Linked DNA regions of Homo sapiens: region 2 is linked to region 1. A link means that fine-mapping ties the variant in region 1 to the expression of a gene that starts in the linked region. Tissue or cell type: whole blood. Region 1 holds a variant in brackets; the other region holds the start of a gene. Each region is shown on its reference strand, or each on the opposite one. Region 1 holds the start of MIA (MIA SH3 domain containing). Region 2 holds the start of ELL2 (elongation factor for RNA polymerase II 2).

What was found. PIP is the estimated chance that this variant, and not a neighbour inherited with it, causes the effect.
Region 2: ELL2 starts here. The variant in region 1 is fine-mapped to the expression of ELL2 in whole blood (TOPMed, PIP 0.99).

Annotation. Positions count from the first base shown.
Region 1 is chr19:40,764,242-40,779,741 of GRCh38, forward strand. MIA (MIA SH3 domain containing) reads left to right here and starts at 11,280. Exons shown (of 4, transcript NM_006533.4): 1 at 11,280-11,428; 2 at 11,511-11,644; 3 at 12,728-12,838; 4 at 13,156-13,249. The coding sequence starts at 11,302. The coding sequence ends at 13,179. It overlaps MIA-RAB4B (MIA-RAB4B readthrough (NMD candidate)), which reads left to right and starts at 11,296. Exons shown (of 10, transcript NR_037775.1): 1 at 11,296-11,428; 2 at 11,511-11,644; 3 at 12,728-12,838. SNRPA (small nuclear ribonucleoprotein polypeptide A) reads left to right here. Exons shown (of 6, transcript NM_004596.5): 6 at 767-1,148. The coding sequence ends at 926. It overlaps RAB4B (RAB4B, member RAS oncogene family), which reads left to right and starts at 14,006. Exons shown (of 8, transcript NM_016154.5): 1 at 14,006-14,150. The coding sequence starts at 14,135. It also overlaps RAB4B-EGLN2. RefSeq lists silencers at 13,140-13,269, 13,820-14,059 and enhancers at 14,120-14,189, 15,077-15,500. The variant G/A (reference allele first, on the strand shown) is at 7,874.
Region 2 is chr5:95,957,132-95,972,631 of GRCh38, forward strand. ELL2 (elongation factor for RNA polymerase II 2) reads right to left here and starts at 4,720. Exons shown (of 12, transcript NM_012081.6): 1 at 4,444-4,720. The coding sequence starts at 4,590. LOC101929710 (a long non-coding RNA gene) reads left to right here and starts at 4,870. Exons shown (of 5, transcript NR_130776.1): 1 at 4,870-4,905. It also overlaps a transcript of CAST not described here. RefSeq lists silencers at 4,134-4,543, 4,614-4,853, 4,809-5,276 and an enhancer at 4,572-5,329.

The DNA of each region.
Region 1 (15,500 bases):
AGTTGGAGGGTGTCTGGGAGAAGGGATGGCTACATGCAGCATCTCACCATGCTGCACTGCGTGGCACTTAGAAGAACAGAAAGCGCAACTTTATAATAGTGCCGAGAGAAGATTGTGAGAACCTGAAAAATACAGAAAAACAATACCACATGTGCAGCCTGTCCACAAAGCTGTATATTTTGTGAGAATGCCGATGGAAAAAAGGATACCTAGTAAACATGAGGATGGCTGCTTAATGGAGAAAGAAGTATGGAATGAGAAGAGGGAAATTAGAGAAACAGCATATCAGAAAAGTGAGGGTAAGGCCGGGTGCGGTGGCTCACGCCTAAAATCCCAGTATGTTGGGAGGCTGAGGCAGGTGGATCACTTGAGGTCAGGAGTTCGAGGCCAATGTGGGCAACTTGGTGAAACCCCTTCTCTCCTAAAAATACAAGAATAAAAATGGAAAAAGTGAGGGTATTGGTTATTTTTTTGGTGTGGCGGGTGGGTTATGATTTAGGAAGGGCCCAGGAGACTGCGGTGTACTGTTTCTTGATTTAGGTTGCAGTTGCATGGGTGTTTGTGTTTAAATTTTTCATTAAATGCTATGTTTACATTAGAGTTTTTCAACTTAGTACTATCTGCATTTTGGGCTGGATAATTCTGAGTAATGGGGCCCTGCCCTGTGCATTGGAGGCTATTTGGCATCATTTCTGGCCTCTGTCCACTTGATGCCGTTACGTTAGGGGGAAATGCTGAGTCCCTGAGGTCTGTCGTTCTCTTTCAGGTTCCCTGGCTTCAAGGAGGTCCGTCTGGTACCCGGGCGGCATGACATCGCCTTCGTGGAGTTTGACAATGAGGTACAGGCAGGGGCAGCTCGCGATGCCCTGCAGGGCTTTAAGATCACGCAGAACAACGCCATGAAGATCTCCTTTGCCAAGAAGTAGCACCTTTTCCCCCCATGCCTGCCCCTTCCCCTGTTCTGGGGCCACCCCTTTCCCCCTTGGCTCAGCCCCCTGAAGGTAAGTCCCCCCTTGGGGGCCTTCTTGGAGCCGTGTGTGAGTGAGTGGTCGCCACACAGCATTGTACCCAGAGTCTGTCCCCAGACATTGCACCTGGCGCTGTTAGGCCGGAATTAAAGTGGCTTTTTGAGGTTTGGTTTTTCACAATCATTTGTCTGTCTGATTTTCTTGCTCTTCATGGTTCCTTTCCCTCCACCTCAGCAGCACATCCTGGGTTTTTGGACCTCTTGGCATTTTGAGGTTTGCAACCTTGGGGAAACATAGGATAGTGTAGTAATATTGTTCAAACTCAGGTTACAATGACTACTTTGGCAGTTTTGTATGTTGTCCCAATTCACAGCAGGAAATGGAATCCTGGGTCAGGAAATGGAAAGTCAGGGCTGCCGCGTACAGTTAGGCAGGATGGGTACTGCACAAGAATGGCACCTTTTAAGGGCACACCATTCACTTTGTAGGCTTACAAGTTTATGCCACCACTTTTCTAACAGATGACAAGAGTGTTCAGGGAGAGGTGTTTCTTCACCTTTTTTTTACTCTTCTCAAAAGTGCAGCCTGTTGTAGCAATGGCCCCAGAGAAACCACAGTAGGTAGTTCAAACAGAAAGGAATTTAATACAGGAAACTTGGTGCTGCTGAAATCATGGGGCGTGTGGGTGGTAGGAGTGGCGGTCTGGGTTTGAGACTCTTGAGTTCGAGTTTGCAGCCCCCGAATGAGCTCCTAGCTAGAGTTCAGCGGGATGCCACTCTGGCTTCCGGCAGTGCCTGGACTCATTTGGTCACTCCTGGGAAGCTACTGACTTGATGCTGGTATGAGGGGTGTGGCCGCCTCACACACAGGTGATCTACTTTCCTGGCCAGTGGCCAGCCAGGAGCTTCAGGCAGGTGCCTGACCCCAATTCCCCTGCAGTGTCTAGCTGCAGGGAAGTCTAGGATATGTGACTTCTGGCTGTACAGCCACAAACCCAGCTGCAGCTCTGGATTAGAAAGGGAGATTGGGCAGGGTGGCTCACGCCTATAATCCCAGCACCTTGGGAGGCCGAGGTGGGCAGATGACGAGGTCAGGAATTCCAAACCAGCCTGACCAACATGGTGAAACCCCGTCTCTATTAAAAATACAAAAAAAATTAGCTGGGCATAGGGGTGCGTGCCTGTAATCCCAACTACTCAGGAGGCTGAGACAGGAGAACTGCTTGATCCCAGGACGGGGAGGCTGCAGTGAGCCAAGATTGAGCCACTCCACTCCAGCCTGGGCCACAGAGCGAGACTCAAAAAAAAAAAAAAAAAAAAAAAAGGTTGAGTCAGGCGTGGTGTCTCACACCTGTAATCCCAGCACTTTCGGAGGCCGAGGCGGGCGCATCACCAGCGGCCAGGAGTTCAAGACAAGCCTGGCCAACATGGAGAAACCCCATCTCTACTAAAAATACAAAATTAGCCAGGCGTGGTGGTGTGCTCCGGTAATCTCAGCTACTTAGGAGGCTGAGGCAGAAGAATCATTTGAACCCAGGAGGCGGAGGTTGCAGTGAGTCAAGATCGTGCCATTGCACTCCAGCCTGGGTGACAGTGAGACTCCGTCTCAAAAAAAAAAGGGAAGGGAGATTGGTTGGGGGGACCATCCTTAGGAGTTTGTCACATCCCTGTCCTGGGGAATTTTAAATTGACCAAAAATAATATGCACATGGCCCGGTGCTGTGACTCACGCTTATAATCCTAGCACTTTGGGAGGCCGAGGTGGACAGGTTGTCTCAGCTCAGGAGTTCAAGACCAGCCTGGGCAACATGGTGAAACCCCATCTCTATTAAAAATACAATAAATTGGCCAGGCGTGGTGGTTCATTCCTGTAATCCCAGCACTTTGGGAGGCCGAGGTGGGTGGCTCACCTGAGGTCAGGAGTTTAAGACCAGCCTGGCCAACATGGTGAAACCCCGTTTCTACAAAAATACAAAAATCAACCAGGCACGGGTGGCGGGTGCCAATCCCAGCTACTCGTGAGGCTGAGGAGGGAGAATCGCTTGAACCCGGGAGGTGGAGATTGCAGTGAGCCAAGATCACGCCATTGCACTCTGGCCTGGGCAACAGCAAGAATCTGTCTCAAAAAAAAAAAATTAGCTGGGCATGGTGGTACACACTTGTCCCAGCTACTTGGGAGGCTGAGGCATAAGAATTGCTTGAACTTGGGAGGCAGAGGTTGCAGTGAGCCGAGATTGCACCACTGCACTCCAGCCTGGATGACAAAAAGAGTGAGACTCCATCTCAAAAAAAAAAAAAAAAAAAGTGTGTGTGTGTGTGTGTGTGTGTATATATATATATATGCGCATGCGCATATTACTTAAGACCCTTTCTCACACCAGGTACATGGAAAAAGGCAATCTTTTGGCAAAAAGTAGATCTACCACTAAATACAGTAGGCCAGGTGCGGTGGCTCACGCCTGTAATCCCACCACTCTGGGAGCCAAGGTGGGCAGATGACGAGGTCAGGAGATCGAGACCATCCTGGCCAACATGGTGAAACCCTGTCTCTACTAAAAATACAAAAATTAGTTGGGCGTGGAGGCGCGTGCCTGTAACCCCAGCTACTTGGGAGGCTGAGGCACGAGAATCGCTTGAACATGGGAGGCGGAGGTTGCAGTGAGCCGAGACTGCACCACTGCAATCAACCAGCCTGGTGACAGTGAGACTCTGTCTCAAAATAAATACATACATACATGAATACAGTAAAACATACTAAATTTTTCCTTGTTTTTTGAGATGGAGTCTTGCTCTGTTGCCCAGGCTGGAGTGCAGTGGCATGATCTGAGCTCACTGCAACCTCCGCCTCCCAGGTTCATGCGATTCTCCTGCCTCAGCCTCCTGAGTAGCTGGGACTCCAGGCACCCGTCACCATGCCTGGCTAATTTTTTTTTTTTTTTAAGGCGGGGTTTTGCTCGTCACCCAGGCTGGAGTGTAGTGGCGCGATTTCTGCTCACTGCAATCTCTGCGTCCCGATTCTCCTGCCTCAGCCTCCTGAGTAGCTGGGATTACAAGTGCATGCCACCACACCTGGCTAATTTTTGTATTTTTAGTAGAGACAGGGTTTCACCATATTGGCCAGGCTGGTCTCCAACTCCTGACCTGGTGATCTGCCTGCCTTGGCCTCCAAAAGTGCTGGGATTACAGGTGTGAGCCACCGCGCCCGGGCTTTTTTTTTTTCTTTTTTGAGACAGAGCCTCACTCTGTCACCCAGGCTGGAGTGCAATGGCATGATCTTGGCTCACTGCAACCTCCGCCTCCTGGGTTCAAGCAATTCTCCTGTCTCAGCCTCCTGAGTAGCTGGGACTACAGGCACCCGCCACCATGCCCGGTTAATTTTTGCATTTTTATTAGAGACGGGGTTTCACCAAGTTGACCAGGCTGGTCTCAAACTCCTGACCTCAAATGATTCACCCACCTCGGCCTCCCAAAGTGCTGGAATTACAGGCGTGAGCCACTGTGCCTGGCTAAACATACTAAATTCTTATTTTCCTGCCAAGGCTCTAGGCCCAATCCTGCTCATGCCCTGCTCTCCCTGTTCACGAGGAATGTCAATATTAAAAGCAGTGAAGATACAGGGCACCCCATGCAGACCTCCTCCACTTGTGATGGGAAAGATGGGAACGACAGGAATTGCCCTCTGCAGTAAATGACGTTTATTGCTGACAGGCAAGGGGAAACATCTCGCCCACCATACTGGCAACCACAGGCCTACTGGCTATTAAGTATGTGCGTTCCGTGGTCAGCTGGTCCTGGTTTCTGCTTTCTGGGGACTTCATAGCTGTTAGCCCATGGGCAGTTGATGTCCCCAGTCTGAGTTTTGTTTACTTCCTGTGTAAAGAGTAGTCCCTCTATATTAATACCATGATGATGTTTGTACTCATTACCCATCCCCTAGCACACACTCTCTCCCTTTCAGTCACTTAGCAAGCACTCAATAAGTTCAGCAAATATTTGCTGGGTACCTATTGTGTGCTGCATACTTTTGTAGGGACAAGGTATGCAGTGATTAATAAAATAGAGAATTTCCAGTATTGTGTTGTGATGAAAACAAAACTGATGTGGTGGGGCCAGCATACTGAGAGGCCGAGGTGGGAGGGTCGCTTGAGGCAAGGAGACCAACCTGGGCAACAAAGTGAGACCTCATCTCTACAAAAAAAAAAAAAAAATTAAAAATTAGCCATGAGTGGTGGCATGCTAGTTGGGAGCCTGACCCAGGGGGTTCACTGGAGCCCAGTTCAAGGCTGCAGGGAGCTATGATGGTGCCACTGCACTCCAGCCTGGGTGACAGAGTGAGACCCCATCTCCAAACAAAAAACAACCTAGGCTGGGCCAGGCACAGGGGCTCACACCTGTAATCCCAGCGCTTTGGGAAGCTGAGGTGGGTGGAACACTTCAGATCAAGAGTACGAGACCATCCTGGCCAACATGCTGAAACACTCTCTCTACTAAAAATACAACAACAGCCGGGCGCAGTGGCTCATGCCTGTAATCCCAGCACTTTGGGAAGCCGAGGCGGGCGGATCACGAGGTCAGGAGATCGAGACCATCCTGACTAACCCGGTGAAACCCCGTCTCTACTAAAAATACAAAAAAATTAGCCGGGTGTGGTGGCGGGCGCCTGTAGCCCCAGCTACTTGGGAGGCTGAGGCAGGAGAATGGCGTGAGCCATTCGGGAGGTGGAGCTTGCTGTGAGCCGAGATCGCGCCACTGCACTCCAAAATCCAGCCTGGGCGACAGAGCAAGACTCTGTATCAAAAAAACAAACAAACAAAACAACAACAACAACAACAAAATTAGTTAGACGTGGTGGTGCATGCTTGTAATCCTAGCTACTTGGGAGGCTGAGGCAGGAGAATCACTTGAACCTGGAGGTGGAGGTTGCAGTGAGATGGAGGTGCAGTGGCACTGCACACTCCAGCCTGGGTGACAGAGCAAGACTCCAAAAAAAAAAAAAAAATCCTGATGTGAAGCGGGTGATGGGGTTGGGAACAGTAATGAGTGGTCCAGAAAACCCTTCTGAGAAGGTGCATTTGAGCTGAGCTCATGGTGCTTGGTGTTGGGTTTGTAGACATGGCACAGACCTAGTCTTCATCCCTGACAAACTCTTCCCTGGCCCCAAGCCTGTGTGTGTCCATCCTCTTCTAAAAAAAGCTTGGACTTGCCAGTCTAGAGGTGAGGGTCCCTGGGAGCAACGTGGACCCTCTGGAGAAGGACGCTTAGCCTGTGGATCTCCGAAGCACACTTTGGAGGTGAGAGATGAAAAAAAAGAGGCCGGGCACGGTGGCTCACCTCTGTAATCCCAGCACTTTGGGAGGCTGAGGTGGGCAGATCACTTGAGGTCAGGAGATCGACACCAGCGTGGTGAATATGGTGAAACCCGTCGCTACTAAATATACAAAAATTAGCCAGGCATGGTGGCACGTGCCTGTAGTCTCAGCTACTTGGAGGCTGAAGCAGAATTGCTTGAACCCGGGAGGCGGAGGTTGCAGTAAGCCGAGATCATGCCACTGCACTCCAGCCTGGGCGACAGAGTGAGATTCTGTCTCAAAATTTTAAAAAATTAAAAAAAAAAATTGTGCTTCTCAGTGGCCCTGCTCCTGTGGCTGCAATATGGAGGAAGAGTACAAAGGGTGGGTACAAAGACTGGCCTCTGTCTTGCTGTTGGGAAATCCAGCTGCCACGTTGTGAGCTTGTGTCTGGAATTGGTTCCTTCTGGTGGGTTCTTGGCGTCGCTGACTTCAAGAATGAAGCCATGCACCCTCGCAGTGAGTGTCACAGTTCTTAAAGATGGTGTGCCTGGAGTTTGTTCCTTCAGATGTTCAGATGTATCTGGAATTTCTTCCTTCTGGTGGGTTTGTAGTCTATGCTGAGTTCAGGAGTGAAGCCACAGACCTTCGCGGTGAGTGTTACAGCTCATAAAGATAATGTGGACCTATAGAATGTGCAACAGCAAAATTTATTGCAAAGAGCAAAAGAACAAGGCTTCCACAGCATGGAAGGCGCCCTGAGCCAGTTGCAGCTGCTGGCTAGGGTGGCCTGCTTTTATTTCCTTATTTGGTCCCACCCACATCCTGCTGATTGATCCATTTTACAGATAGCTGATTGGTCCATTTTACAGAGTGCTGATTGGTCTGTTTTACAGAGTCTGATTGGTCCGTTTTTACAGAGAGCTGATTGGTGCGTTTACAAATCTTTACCTAGACACAGAGCGCTGATTGGCGTGCTTACAATCCTTTAGCTAGACACAGAGCGCTGATTGGTGCATTTACAATCCTTTAGCTAGACAGAAAAGTTCTCCAAGTCCCCTACCTGATTAGCTAGACACAGAGCACTGATTGGTGTGTTTACAAACCTTTAGCTAGACACAGAGTGCTGATTGGTGCATTTACAATCCTTTAGGTAGACAGAAAAGTTCTCCAAGTCCTCACCGGCCCAGAGGCCCAGCCATCTTCACCTCTCAAGCTGTCTGTAGAGGTCCACGTGTCAAGAAAACTGAGGACAGAGGCCCTCAGTCCAGTTCCCACAAGCAACTGCATCTCCCCAACAGCTGCCTGAATGAGTTTGGAAGCAGTCCTCCCACCATTCAGCCTTCAGATGAAACTGCACCCCTGGCTGACAGGCTGATTGCAGCCTTATAGCAGACCTTAAGCCTGAGACATTCGACCCACAGAAAAGGTGATAATTTTGGTCTTTTTTTTTCTAAACAGGTTCTTGCTCTAGAGTGCAGTGGCACGATCATGGCTCACTGCGGCCTCTACATCCTGGGTTCAAGTGGTCCTCCCACCTCAACCTCCTGAGTGGCTGGGACTACAGGTTTGTACCACCATGCACAGCTAGTTTTTCTCTTTTTTTCTTCTTTTTGTA[G/A]GTACAAGGGTCTCCCTGTGTTACTTAGGCTGGTCTCAAATTCTTAGGCTCTAGCAATCCTCCTGTCTCAGCCTCCCAAAGTGTTGGGATTACAGGCATGAGCCACTGCACTGGGGCAATGTTGGTCTTAGGCTAATTATGCAGCAGGAGATACATGCACTGTGCTTTGGGAATTGAAGTCACTTCTATTTCTTTGTGGCTTCATCAGTAATATGGGGCAGGGGGCACGGTTCCCACAGCTGATTCTTGAGTGTTCTTTCTGAGTATCCTTAATACTTCACACACTATCATATATCTGAACTTTGTTCATTGATTATCTCCCCTTTAATTTTCATTCCTTGATGAATCTCCAGGGTCTGGATTAAGTCCTAGGATACTTTATGTACTCATGAAATCTTCAATGAATGAAGAAATGATTTTTTTTTTTTTTGAGACAGAGTCTCACTCTGTCACCCAGGCTGGAGTGCAGTGGCATGATCTTGGCTCATTGCAACCTCCACCTCCCAGGTTCAAGCAATTCTTCTGCCTCAGCCTCCTGAGTAGCTGGGACTACAGGCATGCGCCACCATGCCTGGCTCATTTTTGTATTTTTCAGTAGTGACAGGGTTTCACCATATTGGCCAGGCTGGTCTTGAACTCCTGACCTCAGGTGATCCACCCACCTCAGCCTCCCAAAGTGCTGGGATTACAGGTGTGAGCCACTGCATCCGGCGGATTTTTTTTTTTTTTTTTTTGAGACAGGGTCTCACTCTCTCGTTCAGGCTGGAGTGCAGTGGCGTGATCTTGGCTCACTGCAGCCTCCACCTCCCAGTTTCAAGTGATTCTGGTTCGGCCTCCCAAGTAGCTGGGACTACAGGTGTGTGCCACCATGCCTGTCTAATTTTTGTATTTTCACCACGTTGGCCAGGCTGGTCTCAAAACTCCTGACCTCAAGTGATCCGCCTGCCTCAGCCTCCCAAAGTGCTGGGATTACAAGAGTGAGCCACCATGTCTGGCCTGAATGAAGAAATAATTTTTTAAAGAGTGTTTTAAAGTGGGGCCGGGTGCGGTGGCTCACACCTGTAATCCCCACACTTTTGGAGGCCAAGGTGGGTGGGTCACTTGAGGTCAGGAGTTTGACACCAGCCTGACCAACATGGTGAAACCCCATCTCTACTAAAAATACAAAATTAGCTGGGCATGGTGGCAGATGCCTGTAATCCCCGCTACTTGGGAGGCTGAGGCAGGAGAATCACTTGAACCCGGGAGGGGGAGGTCACAGTGAGCTAAGATCGTGCCATTGCACTCCAGCTTGGGTGACAAGAGCGAAACAATGTCTCAAAAAAAAAAAAAAAAAAAAAGAAATTGCATTTCAAAGCCAGGTGCAGTGGCTCACACTTATAGTCACAGCTACTTAGGAGGCTGCGGTGGGAGAATAGCTTGAGCCCAGTTGTTCAAGGCTGAGTGAGCTGTGATTGTGGCACTGCACTCTAGTCTGGGTGACAGAGTGAGACCCTGCCTGTAAAAAAAAAAAAATCTTTCAGGCCAGACGCGGTGACTCACTCCTATAATCCCAGCACTTTGGAACGCCGAGGCGGGTGGATCACCTGAGGTGGGGAGTTCGAGACCAGCCTGGCCAACATGGACAAACCCTGTCTCTACTAAAAATACAAAAATAGCCGGGCATGGTGGCACATGCCTGTAATCCCAGCTACTCGGGAGGCTGAGGCAGGAGAATTGCTTGAACTCGGGAGGTGGAGGTTGCAGTGAGCTGAGATTGTACCACTGCAATATGAGACTCCATCTCAAAGAAAAAAAAGAAAAAAAAAAAAAGATAGCATAGCAATGGCTGTGGGCCTGGATACAAGTCTTAGCCTCTCCACTTCTCCACTTCCTGGCTCTGTAAGCCTTAGACAAGTTCCTTAACTCCACACTTCCATTTCCATGTAACAAGGGGTTATAGGCCAGGCATTGGTGGCTCATGCCTGTAATCCCAGTGCTTTGGGAGGCCAAGGCGGGAGGATACTTGGGGACAAGAGTTCAAGACCAGCCCAGGCAGCACAGTAAGACATTGGCTCTAGAAAAATAAAAATAAAAGAAATCATCCAAGAATGGTGACTTGCCTACTATTCTACTCGAGAGGCTGAGAGGGGAGGATTTCTTGAGCCCAGGAGTTTGAGGATGCAGTGAGCTATGATCACATCACTGTACTTCAGCCTGAGCAACAGCAAGATCCTGTCTCAAAAAATTAAATTAGGCTGGGCTTGGTGGCTCATGCCTGTAATCCCAGCACTTTGGAAGGCCATGGTGGGCAGATTGCTTGAGCCCAGGAGTTTGAGACGAGGCTGGGCAACATGACGAAACCCCGGCTCTACCAAAAAATACAAAAAATTAACTGGGCATAATGGTACATGTCTGTGGTCCCAGCTACTCGGTAGGCTGAGGTGGGAGGAATGCTTGAGCCCAGGAAATAGGGGCTACAGTGAACCAGGATCATGCCAGTGCACTCCAACCTGGGCAACAGAGCAAGACTCTACCTCAAAATAATTATTTAAAAAAATGGATTAATTGGGCATAGGTGGCTTGTGCCTGTAGTCCCAGTTACTCAGGAGGCTGAGGTGGGAGGATTGCCTGAGTCTAGGAGGTTGAGGCTGCAGTGAGCCGGGATGGCACCATTGCACTCCACCTGGGCAACAGGGTGAGACCCTGTCTCAAAAAAGAAAAAAAAGGGAGGGGTTATAATCACTCCTCCTGACATGATACAGAGTATCCATTTGAGTTCATAACATAAATATGTACTTGGTGAATGCTCTGTAACTATTGGCTTTTTTATTGTTCCCATTTTACATATAAGGAAGCTGAGGCTTTGTGAGGAGAAATAGCTTAGCCCAGGTCATCCAGTGGGAAGCGTCTGGTGCAGAGGAATAGTGATCATGGTGGGACTTTGCCTAGCCTAAGGTTCAGCATACAATATTCAGTCAGTACTCAAGGGCTGGGCTGTTTCTGGTAATCAAAGGGCTGCCTTGTTCTCCTGCCCCACAGCACAGGAAATTCCAAGGTGGTTTTCTTTACAGGCTCCTCCGCTTCTGTGGCCAGAGGGGACAGCGGAGGAGCCCAGGTACCTAAGCCAACTCAAGAGAAGATGGAATTGAATATTTCAACCACCTTATCTAGGCCTCTGTGATTGTTGAGGAGGGGGCTGTCACTGGGAAAGTTGTGAGCTGCTTTGGACCTTATCTGGGAATTTCCTTGGGCTTACAGCCTTTACCCTATCCTTGAAATGGTTCTGGTTTCATAGCAACTTCTAGGTGGTGTGGGCGAAGTTTGGGACTGGTTTAGGGCGGGGACAAGACCAAGAACACAAGTTTCCTTGTACTACGGGAGAGAGGGAGGGGAGGAAATTGGAGACCCCAGCACCCCCTTGCTCACTCTCTTGCTCACAGTCCACGATGGCCCGGTCCCTGGTGTGCCTTGGTGTCATCATCTTGCTGTCTGCCTTCTCCGGACCTGGTGTCAGGGGTGGTCCTATGCCCAAGCTGGCTGACCGGAAGCTGTGTGCGGACCAGGAGTGCAGCCGTAAGAATGGGGAGGGGAGAATTGGGGGCTTGGGCGTTAGCCTGTGTGGAGGGTGCTGCATTCCCTTCTATTCCTTCCCTAGACCCTATCTCCATGGCTGTGGCCCTTCAGGACTACATGGCCCCCGACTGCCGATTCCTGACCATTCACCGGGGCCAAGTGGTGTATGTCTTCTCCAAGCTGAAGGGCCGTGGGCGGCTCTTCTGGGGAGGCAGCGTGAGTCTTGGGAGAGTGAAAGAGGGAAGGGTACAGAGCTGGGGTAGACTCATTATCCCCATGAAGGGAAGATTTGAGGGGGGTGAACTGAAATAGACATTGTGGGGGGATATTGTTACTTACTTTATTTTATTTGCTTATTATTTTTTAATTTTTTCCGAGACAGAGTCTTGCTCTGTCACCCAGGCTGGAGTGCAATGGCACGATCTCGGCTCACTGTAACCTCCACCTCTTGGGTTTAAGCGATTCTCCTGCCTCAGCCTCCCAAGTACCTGGGATTACAGGCATGCACCACCACACCTGGCTAATTTTTGTATTTTTAGTAGAGACAGGGTTTTACCATATTGGCCAGGCTGGTCTTGAACTCCTGACCTCATGATCTGCCCGCCTTGGCCTCCCGGAGTGCTGGGATTACAGGTGTGAGCCACTGCCCCCCAGCCTATTTTCACTTTATTTACCAATTTTAGGACCTGATATGGTCCCACGTTCTGTTCTAGACACCAAGATACAACAACAAATGATCCTTTTTATTCTAATGGAGGGAAATGAACAAAAAGCAAGGCATAAAAAATAGCAGCAGCCGGGCACAGTAGCTCACACCTGTAATCCCAAGTAAGGCCAAGTTGGGAGGATAGCTTGAGCCCAGGAGTTCGAGACCAGCCTGGGCAACATAGCAAGACCCCCATCTCTATAAAAAAAAATTTAAAATTAACTGGGCTTCATGGCATGTGTCTGTGGTCCCGGCTACTCGGGAGGCTGAGGTGGGAGGATTGCTTGATCCCAGAAGTTGAGGCTGCAGTGAGCCGTGATCATGCTACTGCACCTCAACCTGGGCGACACAATGAGACCCTGTTTCCAAAATAATAATAATAATAAAAGCAAATATGCGCTGCTGTGAGAATTAACAGAGACTTACTTGGGTGTTCAGAAAGGGCCTCTGAACAGGTGGCATTTAAGCTGAGATTCATATGACAAGGATGGAGCAGTTATGTGGAGATCAGGGAGAAGGGAGAATGCAAAGGCCTTCAGCAGGCACAAGCTTGCCATCTTCCCAGACCCTAGCTTTTAACTCCTCTTCCCCAGGTTCAGGGAGATTACTATGGAGATCTGGCTGCTCGCCTGGGCTATTTCCCCAGTAGCATTGTCCGAGAGGACCAGACCCTGAAACCTGGCAAAGTCGATGTGAAGACAGACGTGAGTGTCATGGGGGCTGGCAAGAAATGTGGGGGGAGGACCCTTAGGTTGTGGGGATGGGCAAAAATGCTCCCACACTTGGCTCCCTGGCAGCCTAGGTATGTGCGCTGGGAGAAATTCTTTCCCTGCCTCAATTTTCTCACCAGTAAAATGGGTCCAGTTGGGAGGTGCAAAGATTAGAGGGCTCTAGGCTAATTTGCATAGCACTTGTGTGGCCAGACCTGGGCCCTGCAGCTGCAGCCTTTGCTAAAACCACTAGATCCTTTGTGGTGTGACCGCTGGTTTTCTTTCCACTGTTTCCCCTTTCTCTTTTTCAGAAATGGGATTTCTACTGCCAGTGAGCTCAGCCTACCGCTGGCCCTGCCGTTTCCCCTCCTTGGCTTTATGCAAATACAATCAGCCCAGTGCAAACGGCTCGTCTCCGTGGTCTTTGGGGTGGGGTAGGGTAGGGTGGGGACTGTACAAATGAAATGTTTCTCTAGGTTGCTGAATCTAACCAATTAACCCGCTGCCTGTGGTAACGTCAGTGGTTGCTAGGCAGAGTTTCACTGATGAAAGCCCTGTGCAGTAGGAGCGCTCCTAAGCTTAGGTTTCGGACACAAGCAAAGGAAAACCTAAGCAGCCCAACTAGGGGATTGTAGTGTCCTCTCTAGACCAGTGGGAGGGAGCCAATCGGACTACGCGGAGGATATAAATCGCACAGTAAAGGTTTTCTTGGAAGATTATCTGGAAAGGGAGGTGGGAAGTAACCTGCGCCTATCTGCCCAGTTTTCCTCCTTTTCGCCTTTGAGAACAGTAATCGCTCCCGCCAGCTCAAGATCAGCTCCTCTTCCAGCCTCTTTCTGTCAATCCTGCCCGTGCCCCCTTCTTTGCATTTGTATCCCCTCCCCCAAGTCCGCTCCGATCCAATCCGGAGACTCGACTCTGCCCCCCGTACTCCAGACTAAATCCGTTCCTCGGCTCAGCTAAGCAGCTCTGCACGTCCCTTCCCACTTGCTCAGCCAATCGCTGGGCTCGGCCCCGCCCCTTTGGGCTTGGTCCTTCTCACGCCACCAATCCGCGCCTCTTGTCCCGCCCCCTGCCCGCGAGTCCGCCAATCCCGCCCTTCGGAAAGCGTCGCCTGGTATCCAGCTGCCGGAGCGGGTCGCGCCGGAGGGGGGCGGAGGCGGAAGTGGCGGTGCCGGGCCCGGGGAGTAGGAAGGAGCCGGGGCTGTAGCCGGAGTGGAGCGGCTGCCAGCCGAGGAGCAGGCGCGGCCGCGGCGCCATATTGCGGCCCTCAGCGGCCGCGACCGAGTCATGGCTGAGACCTACGGTGAGGGTGGTGGACGAAGCTGGGGTCCTGGGTCTGGGCCCAGGGAGGATGCGGCCTGTGGGAATGGGCGGGGCTTTGTAGATCAGGGGGCGGGGTCTGGTGTGATGGAGGCAGGACCTAAGTGGATGCTGGGAGGGGTTTAGTGGGTCTGAGGCTGAGCTTAATCGATTTAGGTGGAGCCTGAGGGTCTGGTGCGTGGGTTAAATAGATCTGGGGCGGGATTTGAGGGAGCTGGTCCTGAGGGGTTCAGGGAGGCCCTGAGGGAAGAGGTGGGCCTTAATGGATCTGGGCGGAGCCTGAGTGAAGGGGCGGGGCTGACTGCATGAATGGCAGGAGTCGGGCTTATGGGCTAGAGGGAACACTGAATGGAAGCTCGGGACCCTGGGGCTGATCTGGCTGGAGAGAGCTCTGGAATGGGTTTGGGGATGGGCTGTCCTTGAGTTAGGGGCAGGACTTAGTGGCAAAGGGTGGGACTTATGCATGAGAATGGAGCCGGGTTCTGGGCAGAGGGAGGGAAGGAGAGGTCGGGAAGTGGAAAATCAGTAGGGATGCACCATAGGAGGTGGTGATTGGAGGCAGGGGAAGTGCAGGTTTAGGAGTCAGAGGGAGCCGCATTCACTCAACAAATATAGAAGAGAAGGGAGAAGAGTGCAAAGACCCTGAGGTGAGAACCAGCTTGTCATTTTCAGGGAATAGACTGAAGGTCAGGAGCTATAGTGGAGTGAATGAGTCAGAGGGTGGTAGGAGGTGAAGAGGAACAAGGGCTATATCGTAGTCCTTGTTTAAATAGCTTTCAAGAGACTTTAGCGACAAAATAGCTAAGATCTGGGACTCTGGAGCCCTTGGCCTAGGTTTGAATCTCACTTCTGCCCAGCTGTGTCACTTTGGGCAAGTCAGTTAACCTTTCTGGCCTGTTACCTCATCCGGAAAATGGGAATAATTTTTAGTCTACCTCCCTCATAGAGTTTTCCTGAGGATGATGTGAGCTGTTGATGTGAGTAAAGACCTTTAGAACTGTTCCTGGCCCACAACAACACACAATTGACCCATGTAACAAACCTGCACATGTGGGCTGGGCGCGGTGGCTCATGCCTGTAATCCCAGCACTTTGGGAGGCTGAGGCAGGCGGATCACCTGAGGTCGGGAGTTTGAGACCAGCCTGACCAACATGGAGAAACCCCGTCTCTACTAAAAATACAGAATTAGCTGAGTGTGGTGGCGCATGCCTGTAATCCCAGCTACTCGGGAGGCTGAGGCAGGAGAATTGCTTGAACCTGGGAGGTGGAGGTTGCGGTGAGCCGAGATCGCGCCATTGCACTCCAGCCTGGGCAACGAAAAGTGAAACTCTGT
Region 2 (15,500 bases), not on the chromosome of region 1:
TTTTTTAAAAACTAAACTGACAGGCTCAGCAACAAAATCTGAAAATAATGCTTTGATATAGTTTTTGTTATAAAAGTAAGTTACTCAAACATCAAAATAAAGCCAGCAGCATTACTGAGGAACCTAGCTAAAATGTATTTTTAAATGTTGGATTTTAATTTTAAATATAGTTTTCCATTTGGGGGAAATATGTAATTACAGTAATATATGCTCATTTAAAATATGTAGAGCTTATGTAGACCACACAATCACAGATAACAATTTAAAATGACTATAAAGTTGTAATTTGTGATTTTATTTATTTAGCAACTTTTCTCCTCATTCAAAATAATCTACATTTTAAAAGGTTAATATTGTAGATATCTGTATTATCATGTCTAAATTTTTCTGCCAATCATGAAAATAACTTTCCAGTTAACATGATACACAATCAACTTGAAACCATTTCTGTATTCAAAGTGAGTAGCAAAACAACTTTTACAAGATATTTACTCCAACTATAACTCTCATTGCTGGACTCACAATGCCCCTCTGCCTGTTTAGAAAGGCTCCCAAGATCACTTCTCTAAAAATAGGGAACCTGAATAATGAAGGTCAAGTAGGATTATGTGTCTTTTGAAACAGTGAGGAATTGTAATTTGAAAAAAAACAAGATTTCAAAATTTTCATCAAATATTCTGTTTCCACAAACCCTTAGAACGCTGTAAATTTGCTCAATTACATCTAAAGAAGTTCTCTGTTCTGCCTAAATCATAGCTTCCTAAAATTTTTAAATTCACTTCTCTGAAGCCTTACGTCAAAGTGGGTTAATTTAGAAGGGTAACTCCAATAGACAAAATAATTTGGACAAAAAAAGAATTCTCTGATGCTTAATTTAGCAAATTAACCTGTTGAAATTTCTGGCTCTTAGTCATTAGAAGAGAAGGAGTAATAGTCATCACTTTACATAGGCCAGAGCTGCTTAGAGGCTACCTGCCATCAAGTACCCTCCTATATGAGTACAGGAATGGTGGCGGACAGTTTTATATGAGAAATTAAAACCATTTTCCCCCCAGAGAGAACAGGTTTGACCACTAGAAACCTCTTCCCAATTAGCCAATCCATGTGAACATGTTCCCAAACAGCAGCTTCAATTTAAAGTCATGAGCCCTATTTCTAATAACGATGGAAGACAAGAAAGACCAAATTAATATCCTTCCACTGGAGGATAAAAGCTCAGCCAGATGCCTACTGCTAGCAACTCTTACTGTGCCCATAGAGGTACACTGGTCTGGCTGAGTCAGGAGGAGGGGCACTGAGGACACACAGGTGGGTGGAGCCTGCAGTAAGTACCAACGGTACATTCAGTCACCAGAAAGGTATCTATCTCATTTTTTTGGTTTCTTCCCAGTTTTCATCCAACTGAGGTTGACAGTTTCACTCCAATTCCTGCTTGCTTGTCCACACCCCTTAAAAAGTGTTTCCATGGCTGAGCTGACAGTGAGTCCTGATAGGAGCTGGTTAAGGATGGTCAGCTTATGTACCATCCCCCGCATGCCACTGTTTCTACCACCAGTTTTGCAGGAGAAAAGGAATCCTAGGACTAATACAAGCTACTTGGCTCCATGCTTTAAGGTAGAGAGATCTGGGAAAAAGTCTTCCTCCTTTCCCTTTGCTGCCTCTGTAGAGACCAACCAGACCCATAAATGGGCATGTACAGAAATGGAAAAAGTACTAGAAGCAGTCAGAAGCAAACAAAGACATTGACGACTTTGGTACCTCTTAAAAAGTAATTTTTTTTTTTTAAATTAAGAACTAAGTGGTGGGTTGGCAGAGAAAGAATTTTTGATCTTCTGTCTCCTGGAAGCTACTGGTATATAAATGCAGGGGCTTTTAGAGCACTGTAAACTTAATCCCAAATATGAAAACACTAGGGTATAGGAAGCAGAAATGAAGGCCATACAAAGGTAGGAAAACAAAGCACTCCCTTCTGGGGCCTCCAGTGGTCATGCAGATCATGACCAATTACTGTCACTTCGCTTTCCCTTCCCCAAGTGGACCTCCTCATCTGCCCACTTTCCCCACAAGTGTACACTGTCAATCTTGCTGTAATCAACTGTACAGTTGCCTGTTGTTTTCCCAAGGTAGCTGGCTGACCTACTGCCCCCAGAGATGCCTCTTCCCACCCACTGTGTGTCAAGTCTTTCTCTGCTCCTCGGGTCTGCTCCTGAATAGGGGCTGGCCGCCTCCTGCTGACTTCTTTTTCTCTGGGCCTCTGGGTTTTCTCTTCACATCCCCAGACCTACCTTCTTCCCACTGCCATTCCTTCCCACGCCCTTCCCTTGGAACAGGCAAGCTTATCTTTCCATCTTGCAAGGCTGAGTTTCTCTCCAGAGTTTCTCTCCACTGTCTGCTTCTGTCCCTCTGCCTGTGTTTCTGGCTTCCCCCATATGGGCCTCCCACTCCGTCTGATGCTGGTCTCTTCACTGCAGGTGCACCTATCTAAGAGTAGCTATTGGCACATGCAGTTTTCTATTTCTTGTATCTCTCCCAGCCATTCTTGAGATTTTCTCTCGAGATTTCACTGTATGTAGGACGGTACCTTTCTCCCTGTGCATGCACTCCTCCCTGACGCCCCCTCACCCCACCACACAAAGTCTGTGAGTCCTTTTCACCATATGCTTCTCTGGTTAGTAACACAAGTGTCCTAGCACGTACATTCATGTGTCCACCCAATTCTGTGAGTACCTTCCTAACAATACACTCACCTCTGAGCCTCCACTGCTGTTTACAAATACCCTATCATGTGAGTTCATTTTCTATCCAAAGCGTGCACAACTAATGCCTTCCTCTGTGTGCACACTTATGGGGTGGGGGGGCTCTCTGAATACACTCCCAGTAAACCAGGGTTCACACCTCTCCTGCCGCTCTGCCTCAGACTCTGCCTTCGCTCTATGTATTTAAAGTGCCTGGCACTAGTGGGAGCTCAACAGATGTCAATTCTTTTCCCCACTTTTAGCTGAATAACTATGTGAATCTGTGTCTCGGTGTCCTTCTGCCCCTCTGTCTGTTGTACGAGACCGGTTGGAGTGTGTTCCTCAGTACCGAACGGGCTATTTGTAAGATGCCCCGTGGGTTCTATCTCCCTTCCGACTCTCTCCTCTCCTGTAAAACGTTACAGGTTCCCCCATATGGCATATCCCTCCCTCACGCGATGTATCCACTCCGGTCTCCCACAGTACTGCATGTCCATAAACTGTTTCCCCATGCACCCTGGTTACCGCGTCCCTTCTCGGTGCTTCCCTGTCTCTCCCATTTTTTTTCCAACATGAAAGCGTCTGGATTTGTAGTCCAATTACAGTGTATGTGCGCCTATCTGAGCCTCTCTCTGTACTGGAGGGGTGTGTGTGTATATGTGTGTGTGTGTGTCCATGGGCTTCTCTCGAAAACGAGGGGTGAGAGGCCCGAGTCTCTGCCCGGGATGCATTGTATCCTCCCCACACCTTCTGGCTCTGGCTCGTTCCCCGTTTACACTTCCCAGAGTCAGCCCAAGACGCCGGGAGCTTTTTCGGGTACGTTGAGCGTCCGTGAACCTCTCTCTCCAGAACCCGATGTCTTGCTCCCGGGGAGCGCTAAGTGTGCGTGAGTCCTCAGGTCTCTCCCCAGGGCACTGTGTTGGTTTGTGTCCGTCCTGGACGCGGCGCGTCTCCAGTAACGCGATGCGCCGGTGTCCCGGAGTCCCTGGGAATGCAGGTGTGTCCCCTCCCCCCCCGTACGCGAAGCGCCAGTGTCCCCGCCGTTCCAGTGTGCGCCGCCCCCTTACACGGACTGCCTAAGTCCCTATCTCTATGAGTACACCGTGTGCCCCTCACCATGCGCCCGAGTCCCCATCCCTTCGAGCACACAGTGTGTCCCCTGATACGTGGAGCGCCTGTGTCCCCAAGTCCCTGGGAATACAAGGTCCCACCCCCACACGCGGAGCGCCTGTGTCCTGTCTCTGAGGATCCACCGTGCCTATGTAACTGGAAAACGCGGGCAGCTGGTGCCCGCGAGTCGTCCCTGGTTCCTTGCCCATACGCTGCTCGCTACCCTCCTTCCCCGCCGAGGGTAGCGTGGTCATCTCACTTCTCTTATCGGGGCCTCTCTCCCTCCTTGGGACCCAACAAGCCAGGAAATCCTCGGGGGCCGTCGGAAAGTCCCGCAGCGGCAGCGCAGCCGACCCAGGGCTGCGGCTGCCTCGGCCCCGCCGCCAGGGGCCGCCCGACTGCCCGCTTCCCCAACGCCCAGGCTAGCCCGGGACCGCGGCGTCAGCCACCCTGCCCGGCCCTGCCCTGCCTGGCCGCTGCGGGCGCTGACGGTAGCAGCTGCCAGCCACGGCTCCGCCGGCCCCGCACCCGGGCGCGGCCAGGCCGTGAGGGGTGCGCTCTGCCTCTCTGAGCCCAGCCTGCCGGCCGGCCCGCTCACCTTGTGGCTCTGGTAAGTCTCGAGCGCCCGGATCGCCGTCTCGGTGAGCTTCACATGCAGTACGGTGATGTTGTCCTGCCCCAGCCGTCCGCACGACAGCCCATAGCGCTGCTCCTCCCGCAGGCCCCCTGTCCCCCCCGCCGCCATCTTAAACTCCCCGGGGTGCCGCCGCCGCCGCCGCTCCGGCTCTAGCCTCCACTGCGGCCGCGGCTGCTTGGGCTTCTGCAGCCGCCGCCACTGCTAGGGCCATCCCGCTGCTGACGTACTGTCATATACTGCGCGGAGCCAGACCTCGGACTGCCACCGCCGCCACCCGCCCCACCCTCCGGCCCCGCGCCCCGCCCCGGGCTCGTCTCATTGGTCTTGTTCCCTTCAGAACCGCCCTCATCGGCCGCCCTCCACTCTCACGGGGGCGGGCCCAAAGTCACTAGAGTTTTGCTCCTGGGACGGGACGTCCGAGAGGTAAGAGGCTGACGTCTAGGTGACGCGCCAACTTAATCATGTCTGACGTCACGTCTGGTCGTCTTGGCTAGCCGGCCGAGATTGGCCAGGCTGGCTTGGGGACTCCCCTGCTAATTGGAAGTCCAGGTTGCCTGGTCTGGTTACCTGGAGTTGGAGCCCCGCCCCTGTGGGGGATAGTAGTGAAAAGTCAGAATTGGGGAATCTCGCCCTACGCGGGTGGTCCTTGGAGAGGAGGATCTCCACCTCCACTATGTAAGGGGATGGCCGTGACCAAATAAGGACTTTGTTCCCCGACGGCTGCGGAAGCTGTGGAACTTGGTGCGTGCGTGTGGGGGAGGACGCAGCAGGAGGACTCGCTAGAGAGCTGCTCCTCAAAACTCCTAGTACTGTAGTTGAGCAAACGGCATTGGGAGGAAACTGCTCACTCTAAACTTGAAGTTATCGGGTGCCACACGCAGAGCTTATAAAAACAAAAACAAAAACAAAAACCCTTGAAATTAGTGAGTCGACTCTTAGATGTAGGAGTTGTGTTAGATCTTGTGGAGCATCTTAAGGACAAAATCACGCGGGAGGTTAAATGCCTTTCGTATGGTGGGCATGGTATAATAGAGAATTGAGCTTCGAGGTCTTTCCTACGCCATGCCCTGTTGTGATTCTCTGGGATCACAACTGGTGGGGATGATATCTCCTTAAAAAGGACTCTAGAAGAAGAGTAAAACTGGCATTGATCTAAATTAAAAGAAACCTCGACAATTCTCATTCTCTAATTCAGTTTGAGTATTGTCCTTTTTATTTGATAGGGCTGTGTGAAAACCTAGCTAGGGTTTAAAGGTAAGAGGCTGTCGAGGTTAAGCGAAGGAGATGGGGGCGTGAGGGGCGTGCAAAGGCCTGGCATACTTTCCATTCCATCCACAGGATGCTTCCTGTGTAGGCGTGGCTAAAAGAGGGAGCCTAATCTGGAGTCCCTTTCAGATTGTGTGTGGATAGACTGACAGATGGGTTCCTGTCAGAGGATGGATTAATTGGTTGATCAGAAACACCAGATAAAACAAACCATTGAAAGCTTTCAAACTGTTGAAAGGCAGTTTAAAAAAGTTCTTTTAATAAAAAAACTGAGACGCTTGTTTTTACCCTCAGCTTATAAAACCATGTTCTGTTCTACTGGGATTCCCCGGGAAAGTTTATAGATATTTAATCAGTATTTTTCATTATTTTAAATGGATTAGGGCCATGATTCCATGTCCTCCCCTCCCAATAAATGCCTTCCCCACCGTACGGGTACACTCCTTTTTGATTCAGACCTTCAAACATAGTAGGTGTATAATGTGAATTACAGAATGAATTGGATTAAGTGGAAACACCTGTATTAAGTGTTACTCCATCACAGGAAAACAGTTTGTAAATTGACTTAATTTCAATCCACTAAGATTGGCTAGCTGTTAAGACGTGATTAACGCTTGCTAATTTCATTTACTTTAGTGATACAGTGTTATCTTAAATTCATGTAGTAGAGATATTAAGGTAATCATCAAATTGGATTAAAAAGTTTACTCTTAGAAGGGAAATAGAGGCTTTACTACCTAGTTTTCTCCGCTTTCCAAAAGTAGAAACCTTATTCAAATAGTTCATCTCTAAGCGGACTATAATCTAAAAATAATTCTGTACTTGAACTTTTCTTTTCTCTCTCTCTTTTTTTTTTTTTTTTTTTGATAGTAAAGGACTGAGCACATAGCTAAAGCCTTAATTATTTGGGAGGTGAGGGGGAAGGGAGGTTTGACCGGAACAAGTAAAACCTGTATCCCACTGCTTTTCCGGTGAATGTGGGTAAATCCCCACCCACATGATATCCTAACTTGGCCTACTCTTACTCAGAATTTCTGATGACATCCAAGCGGGTGGGGGAGGAGTAAGGATGGTTTTCGTTGTAGTTTTCAAATATCTGACCTGTAGCTTCTTACTAGTAATTGACTTTTTTTAAAAATTATAATAGGAAAATTTTTCTCATGCCCTATTTTAGTGGGTAACAAATCTTTCACGGATTAATATATTATTGTAGTGAGTTAATGGTTGTTTGTATTTTTCCCCTTTTGAGCTTTTCAACTGTGGAAGGAGGAAATGATCAAGTACAAAGTAATATGGTAATCTAGCAGTGTCTTTTCATTGATGTCTCACAGGCATAGTACACATTACGCCTGCCTGAATCAGATGGTCAAGTTATGATGCTGGTTAGGATAATTTATTTTGAGGAGGCTGATGAAAGGTGCTTTTTGGGAAGGTTGCCATTTTATACATATTTTCTGTATCTTTATCTGGTTTAAATAATTAAATAATCATTGAATACCAGTTAAGTATAACATGCGGTAGAGGATTTAAAAATTAAACTGTAAAGTCTCTAGAGGAATTTTCTGTTTCAGTGTGGCAAGTGAACCAGTATAGTCAAAGCAAAGCAATTAGAAAATTAGTAAATGCTAATTTGGACGGTGTTGGTGATAAGCTCAAAAATTCAAAGAAAGGAGAAGTCTGAAGAGGTTTAATGGAGGTGATAGAACTTGAACAGCTCTTGAGGGTTGAGTAGATTCTAGATAAGTTGGAGGTGGTATAGATGGAGACAGCCCAACTAAAAATGATCTTCATGATGATTCCAGGTGGACACATTAGTTTTATGAAGGAGGAACTGAGACCCCCATTTATTTAAAAGCAACCTGCCTAACATAACCAGGAGAGGCAGGGTCGGAATCAGCTCTTTAAATGTCCTTCCAGTCCTTATATACACTGAGTAGCTATGGATTAGATTTAATAACTGAGAAGAAATCTGTCATATAAGACAGTTCAGTGCAGGAAAAAGGCTAAAAGGAATTTGATGCAGGGCCTGCTCCATCTCTCATGTCTAGTATACAGTGCTGGCAAAGGATATGTGACTATCAAGGCCTTCTCTGGCATTCAAATGCTGGGCCACCCCTCATTCCAGGTTGCTGCATATTTAATGACTGTTTCTCACATCTTTGGTACAGAGGTCACCAATTCAGATGCCTTCAGGGACCACTGGATATCCAAATGAGTGAAAGAGGGCAGATACAATGTCATAGGGACTGAAGATGCTGGACGGTAGTGAGCTGGGAGGTTTAAAGGGCTCAGTGATTTCTTGGTTCAGCTGATTGTTGCCAGGTGAACATAAGGTGGCCCAATGTTGCCAGATCTTCTGTTTTTTTTTAAAGCTGAGAAACAAAGATTTTTATGTAAATCTCCTAATATTTATTCTGTAACACTTAAGTTAAAAATTTTAATAAGCATTTTCTGGACACTAAAAAAGTTTTAGGCCAAAGTTAGCCCACAGGTTTCTAGTTTTCCAAATCTGCTGTAGTGACTGCCAATGCAGAAGGGCATTCTGTCTTATACCTGTATTAGCAGTTTTGCAGGTTATTTCTTAAACTCATCTATACAAAAAGTTAATTCTTATTAATGTCTTAATACAAGGCAATGGCTTCTGTTACAAAAAGAGAACATAGAACCTTATAGAGTTATAGCACAGAAGCTCTCTCAATGTAGAATTTCCAGAGAGAAAATCTTTCCCTTTTAAATTCTCTTCCCCAGTGCTGCTTGCTCCCTTGTGCAATGGTTGTGTTTGACCCAATCATTACACTGCTCTCCCTTCAAGACTTTGCCCAGCCATGTACTAAAATCTAAAATGTACTAAATTTCCTTGCCTTGGGCACAATTGAAGTGGAAGCTTGATAGTTTTAAAAGTACTTCAGCAGATATTCATAGAGAATAAAAGTAAGATACCTATAGTTAGGGCATAGATTTTGTTATGTAAATACAGGTTTTAAGTTGAATAATTTTTATTGTATTGTGTGAATATTTACTCTAAGTACAAGAAATGTTACATTGCATTATTATTATTATCATCATCATCATTATTGCTAAATTTGGCTCTGAGTTCCCCATCTGAGTAGTAGGACAGTTAATTTACAAGTCATACAAAGGCTCCAGAATATATGGGGAGGGCTCTCTAATCTAGGTCCATCTCTGCTGGTATAATCCTTTAGAGGCTCAAGAGTTTCTTTTTAGGAAGGGTTTGGGATGGAGCGCAACCTAGATAGAAGGAAATAGAGGACCTGAATTGAAAGTGTGTTTGTAGAGCAAACATACTGTGTTTACTTATGTTGTGTATTTTTATGGGGGTAGGGTTAAGTGGCACTGATGGGGATTATGAGAAGGGAGGCTAAAACCCTCCCTAGCCTTGTAATATGATGATGGACCATGTCCATATGATTTTCTGAAAGGAATCGCTTATCTGAGAACTTTGCTGAAACTGGCAGCCCTGGGGTTCTAGCCTCAGCAAAGTCAAGCCTCCCTCCCCAGGTGTATACTTATTGAGGTACTGAAAGGACACTGGACTTGGGCTGTGCACTTCCTGGGGCTGGCAGCCTCTGCTTCTTCCCAGGATTAGGAGGTGTTATCCCATCTGGGGACATCTACCTGTACACTTTCTTAGTCTCCAAAGTTCCTTTCTCTTTCTAGAAGAGTCTGGTTATTTAAAAAAAAAAATTGTGATTTGGAAGTAAGGAAAGTCCCTCCTCCCTTCCAGTTCAAAGCCCTTCTTCACTCTTAATGGGGCTGAGTAGAAGGCTAGGTGGCCAGGGCTATCTCTCCTTTCACATGTATTGAATACACATGCACGTTAGCTTCCTAAGATGGAGATACTCAGTCTTCATTAATACCTTTTTAGCTTTTTTCCCCTCTCTCTATTCCTTGCCTTTCTCCACATTAAGAGCAGTCTCTAGAAAGTTGTATGTCCTTTGGAGGCAAAAGGACTCAGATTTGATTCCTCTAAACACCAAGAAAATTCTCCCCTTCTTCCCTGATTGAAGAAAATGTCCTGTCCACAGAACTGAACTATGTCCAGCATAGTGACCAAAGTGGCCATTCTCCCAGATGATAATTGTTTTATGGCTATTCAGTGTAGTGCAGAGTGCCCTGAAAGATATCATATAGGCTCTGAAAAGGAGAAGAGTGGTAAAGAGTGACCTAACAACTCTTACCATTTCCATGCTGTTTTGTACTAAAAAGGAGCAAATGTATTTCTGAATAAACTGAGGAGTTAGGAAGACATGGGGTGGGGAGGGAATGTTTGTTTAGCCTTTCACTTTTAAACATGCTAATAGTGGACCAAATGCCATCAGCCTCAAGAATGATTTTGATAATTAATAATAGCTTATTCTTGTCAGGTGCAGTTGTGTGATACTGTAGTCCCAGCTACTCAGGAGGCTGAGGCAGAAGGATTCTTTGAGTCCAGCAGTTTGAGGCTGCAGTCCACTATGATCCTTCCTATGAATAGACACTGCATTCCAGCCCAGACAATGTAGTGAGACCCTATCTTTAAATAAATAAATAAATAAATAAATAAATAAATAAGTAAATTGATGTGGTTTGGCTGTGTCCACACCCAAATCTCATCCTGAATTGTAGTTCCCATAATCCCCAAATGTTGTGGGAGGGACCCAATGGGAGGTAATTGAATCATGGGGACAGTTACCGCCATGCTACTGTTCTTCTAACAGTGAGTGAGTTCTCACAAGATCTGATGGTTTTATAAGGAGTTTTCCCTCTTTGCTTGGCACTGCTCGTTGCTGTCGCCATGTGAAGAAGGACGTGTTTGCTTCCCCTTCCACCATGATTGTTAGTTTCCTGAGGCTTCCCCAGCCACACTGAACTGTGAGTCAATTAAACCTCTTACCTTTATAAATTACCCAGTCTTGTTTATGTCTTCATTAGAAGCATGAGAACAGACTAATACATAAATAAAAAAGCTTATTCTTGATGGGGTTTTGAAGTTTAAAAGCAATTTAGTTACACTATCTCTGAATTTTCTGTGTAACTCTGAGGTAGCCATTGTTTTATACTATAGTTACCTTTTAGGTAACTGAGGCGCAGAAAGGGTATGTATCACTCACTTGATAAGTGACAGAGCCAGGCTAGAACCTGAGATTTCCTTTTCCAAATCTCGCATATCTACCTTTGAACATGGCTATAAGGTCTGAGGAATTATAATGAATGTGTCAGGTTATCACAGTGAAATTAATAAAGAGAAAATGGTTGGTTCTACTTCCATGGGCAGGTTGGGGGCTGGTTTTTTTGTTGGTCTTGAAAGCAAGACTTAAGTCATTTGAATAACTCTTTCCACACAAACACCCAATATCCTTCTAAATAGCAACAAGGCAAATAAAATGATCCATTCAGCTTTGGTTTATTATAGCTAGCATATTGACTTTAATGAGATTTATGAAAGTTAATTCTATTTTTATGTGTGGTATATATAATTTGTGATATATTAGAACCCTTGGTATAACAAATATGCACAGCGCATAGGTGCCCATTTGAAAAAGCTCAGATTATGATTTTAAATTATTGGAAAGATTTACAGTTGATATATCTTTGTTTTTATTGCATGTTGTTCATATCTGTCGCTTATTTAATAAGGAATCTTTGGTCAAATACACATCCCCTATAATATCACTCTTCCCGCGGGACTGTATCTCTCACTTTATGACATGGTTTCCACAACATGTCATGACAAAAAGCAGAGAAGAAATATATCAACACATACGGACACAGAAGACTTCTTTGTTTTGACTTAGAATTGTAGCCCTAGCTGATTTCATTGTATTCTCATTCAGCTGTTTATTCAAGTATCATATTTATCATCTTTGATCTTTGCATCTGTTATGGCCTCCAATATTGGGAACGTTTGCTTTTGCCTTGGGTTTTGGAAAATTAAAAACCAATATGACCCTTATAGGTTAGAATATTTACAGAATTAGAAACAAGCAGTATAGTCTAATAGAGGATGTAAGAGGTGAAGATAAGACCTACTAGGTGAGAAGCACTATGCAGGGACTAATTCAGTGATGGAGGAGTTATGGATTGTGAGAACATATTCAGCTCAGGGTGTTGGGAAAAGCTCCATGGAAGAGTTAGCACTGGAATGTCAAAGTTTTCTATCTGCGATAATGGGAGTATTAAAATATTCTAAGTTTAAGGATCTTATGAGCTATCATACGGTGTTTTGGGGGAAAGACAGTAATCTGTTTTCACAGGAATATGTGGTGCTCGAAGGTGATTGTGACAGATGGAGCCAATAAAGATGGATTGGGGACAGATTGTGAGGAGAGCTTTTAGTATTGGGTTAAGGAATATGGACTTCGATCTGTGAGCAATGGGGAACTGTTGGAGGCTTCCGAACAGGAAGTAGCATGATCTAATCTATATGTTAGGACTGTTCAGGTGACAAAAGTATAAGTAATGGATTGGAATGGATTCACTGTTGTAGGCAGTTATTGGGAAGCCTGAAGGCACTTTGATTTGGGAAAGTAAAGGGAACAAAAGAGATTACTATGGGGAAAGTAAGCGGGGAGACCAATGATCAGAGGAGGCTCTGTATCATTTGGGAATTTGAAATAAGGTACTACAAGTGGAGGGGGAGTGATTATGACAAAAAAGAGCAGAGTTAGGAGGCAAAAAGTAATGAGGCCTTGTACTAGGGTATTAATGATGGGAATGGAGAAAAGGAGAAGAATATCATGGCTCTGTGAAGGTAGAGTTGGCTGATTTGGCAGCTTTATTTGAGTATGAGAGGTGAATGAGCATGAGGAATTAAAAGTAACTACTAGCTTCAAGTTTGGTTTACTAGAAGATAATATTATATGAAAAGAAACAAGGGAATCAGGAGAAAGACCTTGTTTAGGTTAGCGGTATCAGTGGATTAAATGTCTGGCAGGCATTTGAAAATGTGAGTCTTAGGCCTCAGAGTCAACCTATTGAGTAATAGTAGAGATTGTGAAATTGAGCAAGTTTTCTGAGGGAGGTTATGAAGAAAGAGGATGAGAAAAAGAATTGGGGAATATTCCTAAATTTCATGCCCACTCTAATGGCAACACACTTCCTTCTTATTTAGAATTATGACTATGGTGGGCCACTCTTACTAACACAGGTATCTTATGCTTGAGGGATGTTTGCATGTATCCCTGTGTATATTTCCAAGATTTTCCTAGTGATAACATCACTCTAAGTCACTTGCTTCACGCATGTTTTTTGAGTGAAGGAAAAAGCTTTGGAATTAATAACCACTCCTTAGGCGTTGCACTTATTCGGTGCACACCCATCGTGATGTGTTGACCTTGCTTACCTTACTCATTGGGAATGGCAGAAAAGGCCATTCACTGTTGTAGGCAGTTATTGGGAAGCCTGAAGGCACTTTGATCTGGAAAGTAAAGAGAACAAAAGAGATTACTAGGGAGAAAGTAAGCAGAGAGATGAATGATCAGAGGAGGCTCTGTGTCATTTGGGAATTGGAAATAGGGTACTGCCAGTGTAAATAATGAACAATGTGAAGCTTAAATGATAATTTGCAACAAGCATTTAATGAAAGATCATTGCTTTTGGTAGTAGCCACATATTGAATAAAGTTTGCTGAGTGTGCACTGAATATTATCTGTCCTAAATGACTCAACATTTCAGTTTGATCCTAGGGAATGTTATGCATCTGGAAAAGGAAAGGAATACATTTATCTCTGAGAGCCGATATTATTGCATAGTACTAACAGAGATAAGGCCACTTTCAAATTGTCATAGCAAATGAACTTTAATGATGACTAATGAATAGAAATGTGTTTAATAACCTGTGATCTGATTTTAGAAGCTGGGCTATTAACTGAGAATAAGGAGAACTGCTCTCTGTTTCTGATTCTGTCCCTCTAATCTTTGCCTTGAATAAATCACTCATGTATAAAATGATTCTGGATAATTTAAAAGCATCAAGTATTTGAATTGTGACTTTTCTCTCCAATATTTCTCAACTAAACCAGCACAAAAAATATAAGAAGTATAAGGTATAATTTGATTTACCTGCAAAAAGAGTATTAGCCTCTAATGGGGATTATCCACATTTCTCAAAAACAACAGTTCATAATGTTGATGATCTATTATGACTGTGACCCCTGATGAGTATACTGAGACTGGAGTCAACAGATTGTATTAAACTTCAATAGCATAGAAAGCCAAGCATCATGATTTAGCTTTGTCAAGTGTTGAAAAATTTTGTTTTTACATAGAGGAAGAAGTCTTTCCTAAATAGATTCTGACTTGGTATATTGACTAAGTATATTTGCCTCATTTTTAGGTTCCTGAATCTCTTTTTTAAAGTTTGTATCTTGTGTTTTTAAAATTACCCTATATTTTACATACTCATTGTAAGCATATAGGCTTGCACAGATTAATTAAATGTAATTTTTGAATATTTGCCAAAACAGAAGCATGGCATTGGAAATGTACTTTAAAAATAGAAAATTTGAAGGCACTTTTGAGTTTGCAATGACAATTATCCCAGAAAATTTACTATAAAATATTTAAGTGTTAGCTCAGGTAACCTTTTTAAAATGTATTTTTAATTTACATACAGTAAAATTTACTCTTTTTGGTATATATTTTATATCAAAAATTCGACAAACAGAACAATTCTATTACCTCCTCGAAGGAACTCCTTGAAAATACATTGTCCCTTTGTAGTCAGATCTTCCTGCCACCCACCCTTAACCCCTAACAACTACTGATCTATTTTCCATCACTATGGTTTGGCCTTTTCTAGGATGTCATACACATGGAATCATACATTATGTAGGCTTTTGAGTCTGGCTTCTTTCACTTAGCATAATGCATTTGAGATTCATCCGTGTTGTTGCAGGTACCCGTAGTTTGTTCCTTTTTATTGCTCAATACTATTCCATTTATGGGTCCTTCACGGTTTAGCTGCCAGCTGAAGGATATTTACATTATACCCAATTTTGGGTGATTGTAAATAAAGCTGTTACAAACATTCACAAATGGTTTTTATGTAAATATGTCTTCTTTGTTTATTTCTTTTATTTCTTTTTTTTTTTTTTTTGAAACAGGGTCCCCCTGCTGTTACCCAGGCTGGAGTGGAGTGGCTCAGTCATAGCTCACTGCAGCCTGAAAGTCCTGGCTTCAAGCCATTCTCACATCTCAGCCTCCCTAATGGCTGGGACTACAGGGCATGCCACCAAACACAGCTAATTATTTTCTTTTTATTTTGTAGATATAAGGTCTCACTGTGTTGCCCAGGCTGGTCTCAAACAGCCTCCCAAAGTGTTGGGTTTACAGGTGTGAGCCACTATGTTCAGCCAAGTCTTATTTCCCTTGGGTGAATACTTAAGAGTGGGATTATTATGTATAGTAAGTGTATATTTAACATTATAATAAGCTGCCCAACTATTGCTCATAGTGACTGTACCATTTTGCATTTGAGAATTCAAGTTTTTCTGTGTACTTGTCAGCACTTGGCATTGTCAGGTTTTTTTTTTAAGTCATTCTAGAGCATACATAGTAGTATCTCATTGTGGTTTTGGTTTCCATTTCCCTAATGACTAGTAATATAGACCATATATCCATGTGTTTGTTTGCCATTAGTATATATTTTTTGTTGAAGTGTCTTTTCAGATCTTTTGTCCTTTTAAAAAAAAGAGTTGCTTTCATATTAAGGTTTGATGATTTTTATATAATCTAGATACATGATTCAAAAA